2 linked regions of the Homo sapiens genome follow. The protein of the gene in region 1 purifies or fractionates together with the protein of each later gene. This does not show direct contact. Each region holds a gene or a part of one and is shown in the gene's direction. Other genes may lie near its edges.

Region 1 (3,645 bases):
CCAGGCACTTCCGCACAGTGAGAGCCAGGATGGCTTCGTGGCTGTACACAGGGGACCTGGCATCAAACCTGCCCAGGGTTCTGGACGCTGCTCTGCCTCTTCCAGGCTGTCACTGTGGGCACGTGACCCCACTTCTCTGAGCTATCTCAAAAACAGGAATCATAGTTGTGGGATTGAAATAAGGACTAAATGAGCTGATGTATTTAGAACGGTGCTTAGCACCTGGAGGCATCAATACAATTTGAGCTATTCTTCTTCTTCTTGAAAATAACTTTAAATTATTATTTTTAGAAGTAGGTGCTCAGTGGATGCCCATTTAATAGATAAGAAAGTTGAGGCTCAAAGATATGATGGCACCTGCCTTAGGTTCCAGCTAGGAAGGGGTAGGGTCAATATTTTTAAATGAGGCTGGCCAGACGCAGTGGCTCACTCCTGTAATCTCAGCATTTTGGGAGGCTGAGGAAGGAAGATCGCTTCAGCCCAGGAGTTTGAGACCAGCCTGGGCAACATAGCAAGACCACGTCGCTAAAAAAATTAATACATAAAATAAAATGAGGCTGGCAGATTTTCAAGTGGAGGGGCAAATTTGATCTTGCAACTGGGTACCATGAGAGAGGTCTGATTTAGGGGGTATCTAGGGGCAAAGCATCTAGAACAGCAGAAACGACTGAGGCAGCGAGGAAATGCCAGCGGCAGGGAAGAGAGCTACCAAGAGGGCAAAGGTTGGGGGTCACAGTCCCAAGAAGAGATGGCCCAAAGCAAAGACAGAAATACAAAAGCACAGTGTCACTGGGGAGGAGACATTCCCTAAGTGCCAGGAAAGTGCAGGGCGGAGGTGGAGACCGTGGCAGGTGGCCCGGCCATGCCCCCCTCCCAGCTGGAACCCTGGGGGAGCTGGGCACCTGGTTGTTCACACGGCAGGGGAGGAACAGCCCTGTCAACTGCTGGCCCCGGGAAACTGGGCCTGGGGAGGACATGCTTGGGCATAATAAGTTAGCCCTGGGGGCAGGGCAGAGCTGGCCTCGGGCCCAGACCCTGCCGCAATGAGGACAGGCCTGGCTGTGGCCCCAGCATGGTGTCTGTTGCAGGTGGCCGGACTGTGCCATGCTGCTCCAGACCCAAGGTGGCAGCTCTCACTGCGGGGACCCTGCTACTTCTGACAGCCATCGGGGCGGCATCCTGGGCCATTGGTGAGAGCGGTTCCTGTGCCTCTGACCTCCCCTGGCCCCTGCAGCCTCCAGCCTGCCTGCCCTCACCCCTCCCTTCTCTGCAGTGGCTGTTCTCCTCAGGAGTGACCAGGAGCCGCTGTACCCAGGTGAGTGGAGCAGGCTGGGACCCTCTGGGGGAGCCCTGGAGGACACGTGTATCTGGCGGGAGCTCAACAAGCGTATTTGTTGAATAAATGCACAAATGCATGCAGAAATGCTAATCATAATAGTGCATTTGTATTGAGTGCCTGCTATGTACCAGGCACTATTCTAAGCACCCCACATGTCTAACCCAGACTTTTTCAGACACCAGTGTATTACTCATGAGTGCCTCATAAAATTAAATTAGTGAGTTGGAAAACCATGTTTTTTTTTTAAGTATGAAATAGATTCGATTACAGACTATCACAGTACATCTCTCAGTAAGTAAAGGTTATGCTAATTTTTGTTTGTTTTTTTTTTTTTTTGCATCCATATACATGTAATCCCACTGCATCCCCACACTCTGAGGGTGGGACTGTTATTCTCCCTGTTTTACAGATGGGGAAACTGAGGCTTTGAGCAATGCAGCAGTTTGCCCCAGACTACAGAGCTATGGGCTACATCAGGATGTAAAAATGTGTTTCTTACTGCGTGGCATGGTGAAAACATGTTGGGGAGGCATGATATAAATTCAGTGGACCCTTCTAACTCTCCTAGGAGGTAGTTTTTTTGTTTGTTTGTTTTAAAAAAGAAAAAAGTCTTGCTCTGTCACCCAGGCTAGAGTGCAATGGTGCAGTCTCAGCTCACCGCAACCTCTGCCTCCCAGGTTCAAGCGATTCTCCTGCTTCAGCCTCCCAAGTACCTGGGAATACAGGCGTGTGCCACCATGCCCAGTTAATTTTTTGTATTTTTAGTAGAGATGAGATTTCACCATGTTGGCCAGGACGGTCTCTATCTCCTGACCTTGTGATCCACCCGCCTCGGCCTCCCAAAGTGCTGGGATTACAGGCATGAGCCACTGCGCCTGTCCCTGGTAATTAGCTCCATTTTACAGATGTGCAAAATGAGGACCAGAGAGGACATGCAGCTGGGGAACGAGGGGCCAGGAACAGCTCTTAGACTTATCCACTGTAAGTGTGTCTGCAGGCATGTGGAATGAATGGCCACACAAATAAATAGATAAAGAAACTAACTGTGGGATGAATGAATGAATCTTCCCAAATGCCAACTTCAAGCTGCCATTCCCTGATGCAGGACAGCAGGAAAAAAGGGGAAGTTGGGTGGTGGGATGTATTTTTCATGTCTGTGAGCCTCATCTAATTCCATAAAGGATTCAGTTCACACTAAAATCAGAAATGAAAATCCAGACAAGAAAAGCCAACATCAACATTAATCATCATTACCAGCACTTAGCATTTGTATGCACCAGCCAAGGCCTTGGGACCTTATGATATCAACTCATTAAGTCTTCCCAACAACCTGTTGTTTTTCTTTTCTTTTTTTTTTCTTTCTTTCTTTCTTTCTTTTTTTTTTTTTTTTTTTTGAGATGGGGTCTTGCTCTGTCGCCCAGGCTGGAGTGCAGTGACACGATCTTAGCTCATTGTAACCTACATCTCCTGGGCTCAAGCAATCCTCCCATCTCAGCCTTCTGAGTAGCTGGGACTATAGGCTAATGCCACCATGCCTACACAAAATTATTTTGTCAATAACAAATTATTGTTATTTTTATCTTTTTGAGCCAGAGTCTCGCTGTGTCGCCCAGGCAGGAGTGCTGTGGCGCGATCTTGGCTCACTGCAATCTCCATCTCCCAGGTTCAAGTGATTCTCCTGCCTCAGCCTCCTGAGTAGCTAGGACTACAGGCACGTGCCACCACACCCAGCTAATTTTTGTATTTTTAGTAGAGGCGGGGTTTCACCATGTTGGCCAGGATGGTCTCAAACTCCTGACCTCAGGTGATCCACCCGTCTCGGCCTCCCAAAGTGCTGGGACTACAGGCATGAGCCACCACACCCAACCTCATTTTTTAAATTTTTAGTAGAGATGGGATCTTGCTACATTGCCCAGTCTGATCTTGAACTCCTGAGCTCAAAGCAGTCCTCTCAGATCAGCCTCCCAAAGTGCAGGGATTACAGGTGTGCACCACCACAACCCATTTTCCTATGGGGATGCTGAGGCACAGAAAGGCTGAGTGACTTGCCCCAGGTCATGGAGCTAGTCAGTGTCAGGGCTGGGATTTGAACCCAGGCAGCCTGCGTAGTAACTGTATATAGTGTCTACACTTGATTGCTTGTTAAAAAAAAAAAAAAAGAACAGCTGAATTCATTGCCATAGTAAAGACTGACATATGCCAGGCCCTGGCGGCAGCCTTTACCCAGCAGGCCTATGAAGTTAGGGCTGTTACATCCCAACATTTTGCATTTGGGGGAAATTGAGTCCCAGTGAAGCAAACTGACT
Region 2 (3,745 bases), on another chromosome or scaffold:
GGGGGCGCACAGGAGTGCCCGGTCTAAAACCTGGCTATGCTCCCCACCAGGTCTGGTGGCTTGCAGCACGTTTGCACTTACCCTGAGCCTCAAACTAGTTATCTGTAGAATGGGGATGATAACGCTCACTCCGCAGAGCTGCTGAGGCTTGAAGGACAGGCCGAGGGAGGGTTTGGCCCGTGAGGCCCCTCACCATGCCTGGTGACCCCTTAGCAGTTTTGATTTAGGTCCTCGCCTCCACGCAGGGGCCTGCGGGTGCGCGCGGCCCTTTGTTTCTCTAGAACCCTGCACGATTCGTGGTTTCATGTAGAAACAAGTTAGTGAGCAGTCAGTCAGTAACCACAGGCCGCAGAGTTCCGGGCTGCTCCGTGCTCTGGAACACGGGGGAGGGGTTGATGTCAGGGGCGTGGGTCCTGATCACATGGCAGCAGCCCTTCTTGGGGAAGTCAGCTACCCAGCAGCCTGTAGTCCTCGGCTACCCACCCTCACCGCCTGGGGTCCCATGGTGAGACAGCTGGGTGGGCATCAGGCTTCTGCAGAGGGCCAGGCCGGAGGGAGCTGGGCGAGGGAGTGGGGCTGGCTCCTGGCTTGCACCGGCCTCGTGGAATCCAGGCCTCAGACCTGATCGCTGGCGAAACTGGCTCTGTGCGCTGGAGCCCCTGGTCTTCTGCGTCTGTCCTCCTCCCGGCCAGACTTTACTCCTGGCTCAGCGACAGGTATTTGCTATGGAAGAGCTGTCCCTCCCTCCCCTCGGTGGGCCTGGGTCCACCTCCACCTCCTCTTCAGGTCCGCACCTTCCTCCCCTTTAAAACACCAGCCGGGCGCAGACCCGTTCTAGGCTTTTCCATGGTGCTTCCGCCAAAGCTTGTGACCGAGTCCTTCCCGCCTAGGGCTGGTGGGCCTCCCCTGCTGGTAGGTCTCTCTTCGCTTTCTTTACTCAGAACTGAAGCTCTCATTCCCCACCCACCAAGGAAAAACAAAAGGGAAGAAGCCACAGCTGGCCCCGGCTTGCTTTGGCACAGGTGTTTCCCCCCGGCCCCCCGTCGGGCACCCTGGTTCCTGTTCTGTCCCTGCCCCACGCGACCCTGGGGCTCCCACCCGGGCTCCTCAGCCTCCCCTGGGTTGGGGTGGGGGGACTGGCTCCCAGCCCTTGGCCTAGGGTTTGGTGAACGCCTTTCCTGGACTGCGGGCCCACTTCAGGCGCGGCTCCAGGCTGGGCAGCTGCGCTGGAGGGCCGAGGGCAGGGGTGGGGTCGGGCGTCCACCCTCAGGGTTGCGCCAGGGAGCCGGAAAGCCGACTCCCGAAGTTGGGGTCCTGGGAAAACTTGGGTCCTGGGTTGACTGAGAAGCGGCGGGGAAAGGAGGCGGGCCAGGAGGAGGGGGCCTGGCGGACGCCGGCCGGGGGGCGGGGCGCGGCGGGGCTGTCGGTCACGCCCCTCAGTCCGCCCCGCCCCGCCCCGCCTGCCGGGGAAGGGCCACGTTGCCCGCCCGGCCGTCCGGCCCCGGCGCGCCGCAGAAAGGGCTGGCGAGTCGAAAGGCGAGGCGGCCGCGGCAGCGCTTGGGACGCGCCTGGGCACCGGGCTCGCTCCCTGCGCCCCGGAGCAGGCCAAGTTCGGGGCCAGGACGTCGGGAGGACCTGGTGAGTAGGTGTCCGGGGACGGAGGTCAGACCGGGGGAGGCCTCGCGGGCGCCGAGAGGGAGCCCAAGGGACGTCGGGTCGCCCCAAAGCCCCGGTGCCCATGAGTGCTAGCGAGAGGGGGCTTGGCTGGGGAGCGGCCCGGTCCGACCCGGTGCCAGCTGCGCGTTAGTCCCTTCCCGAGCCGAGAGGTTGGAACTCCGCCTTCTGCTTTCGGAATCCCGGGCCTCCAGCTGTTAGAGGAAGGGCGGGCTCCGCGGACTGGGGAGGATGTTGTGAAACTCGGCCCCGGGCGTCCGTGCGTGCGGGGCAGGGAGGGGGTGGGATTGGGGAGTGGCCTTTCCCCCCTAACCTCACTCCAGCATCCTTTCCCCAAGTTAATAGAGGCTGATTCTCCTCAGCAGAAAGGAAATGTTGATTCAGTGTTGAAATATATATATAATAAGTTGGCAAGAAAACTTTTCTTCCTGTTTGCTAACGTGTGTGGAGTAGAGAGCCCCGGGACGTGCAGTGCCCGCGTCTGATAAACTCTGAAGTAGAGGGACTGTGGCTGGCCGGCTCCCTGAAGGCTGAAGCTTCACTTTGGTTAACCCTTGCTGCTGTAGTGGGTCTGCCGTTTTGTTTTAGAACATCACTGGCTGAGATGTTGCCCAGCTTTATTTTCAGTCATTTACGGTATTTTTTCAGGCCGTGTAGCCTTTGCTCTTACGTGCTCACATCATCCAGGATCTGCCTTCCATCAGCAATCACTGCGTCCTGGTCCTTCCCAATTCTGGGGACCATTGAGCTCACCCATTTCCCTGCTTCTGTGTCTCATTCTCACTGTTAGAAGCACTGCGGTATGCCTGACCTCAGTGGCCTGTGTTAACAAGGGAAACTCATTACTGTTCGGGGCAGTAGGGAAATTGTCACTGTCGTCAGTATCCAGGCAGTGGGACCTTGTGATGAACCAAATCAACCCTGTCACCTTATAGATGAGAGAACTAAGGTACAAGTGGGTCAAGTGACTTGTCCAAAGTTGCCTGGCTTGCTGGCTGGATCGCCTGAATCCCAGGCCTCATGCCTTTTGTGGCACTTGTATTTAGCTCTTCTTTTCCAGGATGAATAACCTGCATCCCTTCCCTCCTAGGTCTTATTCTCTCAACTCTTGAATTATTTAGTGTATCTTCTCTGACTACCTTTCTTTTTTTTCCGTCCTGAAATTATGGGCCTGGTACATGATACAGGAGTCCAGCCAAGGTCTAAGAACGAACATGAAAGCAGTTCAGTTAGAGTTCCATTACCTGTGACATGTCTATATTTTCTGGAATTTTTACGTAGTGCTTTTTAACTTTAAGCAAAGCAGAGATAGAAGGGAAAATCTGTTACCATTTCTTCCACTTCTGTACTTAATTTTACAGCTAAATATAACTTCTCGCTTATTGCTCATGATTGGAAGTTGACTATCTGGTGTTCACTTGCTATTTAAGAAACATTTTTTGCCAGATAAAGGAAATAGGCTGGAGAACACCATGGTATCAGAGTGTTAGAAAGGATCTCACAGCTCCTAGGCAGTCCTTCAAATGCTTCAGAAACTGAGTGAGCCCCATAGGGGCAGGTGGCGCCTACCCAGAGCCACCTCGGTTTTAGCTGAAGGGTTTTGTACTGAAAAGACTCACTTCTCATCTCCCACCATGGTGCAGATGTCTTTGTACCTGGTGGTGTGGATTGGCTGTGTCACCTCCCTAAAGGAGTTGTGAAAACTCTAGAAAGTCAAAGCCAGTTTTGAGTCTGTGCCTTGCATGCCAGTCTCATAAATGACATCATTAGGAACTCAGGTCAGGATTAAGGGCAGTTGTTCTATTTAAAAAGGAAGGTGTAGCAGATTGTATTTTCCCTCAAGGGCCTCACCCGTAAGTATCCCCTTCCACATGTAGTTATAGTTTGACATTGTCCACTTCCCACCTAGTGGTGGGGTTTATGATTCTCTCCCCTTGCATGTCAATAGGGACTTGTGGTTCCCTTGACCAGTGAGTAAGACAGACCTGATCCAAGGCTGAATCAGGAACAGGATACACTTTCACCTGGCTTGCCCGCTTTCTTGGAACACTCACCTTTGGAATGCAGCCAC

The links. Proteins that work in one complex are often made in the same cells at the same time.
Region 2: the proteins of HPN (region 1) and MGAT1 purify together in Homo sapiens (co-immunoprecipitation; 2 studies listed by BioGRID and IntAct, with this or other methods). This does not show direct contact.

Annotation. Positions count from the first base shown.
Region 1 is NC_000019.10:35,048,202-35,051,846, forward strand, and holds part of HPN (serine protease hepsin precursor), read left to right. Parts: intron 1-1,061; exon of another isoform or gene 1,062-1,088; coding exon 1,089-1,190; intron 1,191-1,273; coding exon 1,274-1,315; intron 1,316-2,244; coding exon of another isoform or gene 2,245-2,320; intron 2,321-3,645. UniProt on the Homo sapiens protein: Serine protease that cleaves extracellular substrates, and contributes to the proteolytic processing of growth factors, such as HGF and MST1/HGFL. Plays a role in cell growth and maintenance of cell morphology.
Region 2 is NC_000005.10:180,800,573-180,804,317, reverse strand, and holds the start of MGAT1 (alpha-1,3-mannosyl-glycoprotein 2-beta-N-acetylglucosaminyltransferase), read left to right. Parts: upstream 1-1,511; 5' UTR 1,512-1,638; exon of another isoform or gene 1,639-1,642; intron 1,643-3,745. UniProt on the Homo sapiens protein: Initiates complex N-linked carbohydrate formation. Essential for the conversion of high-mannose to hybrid and complex N-glycans.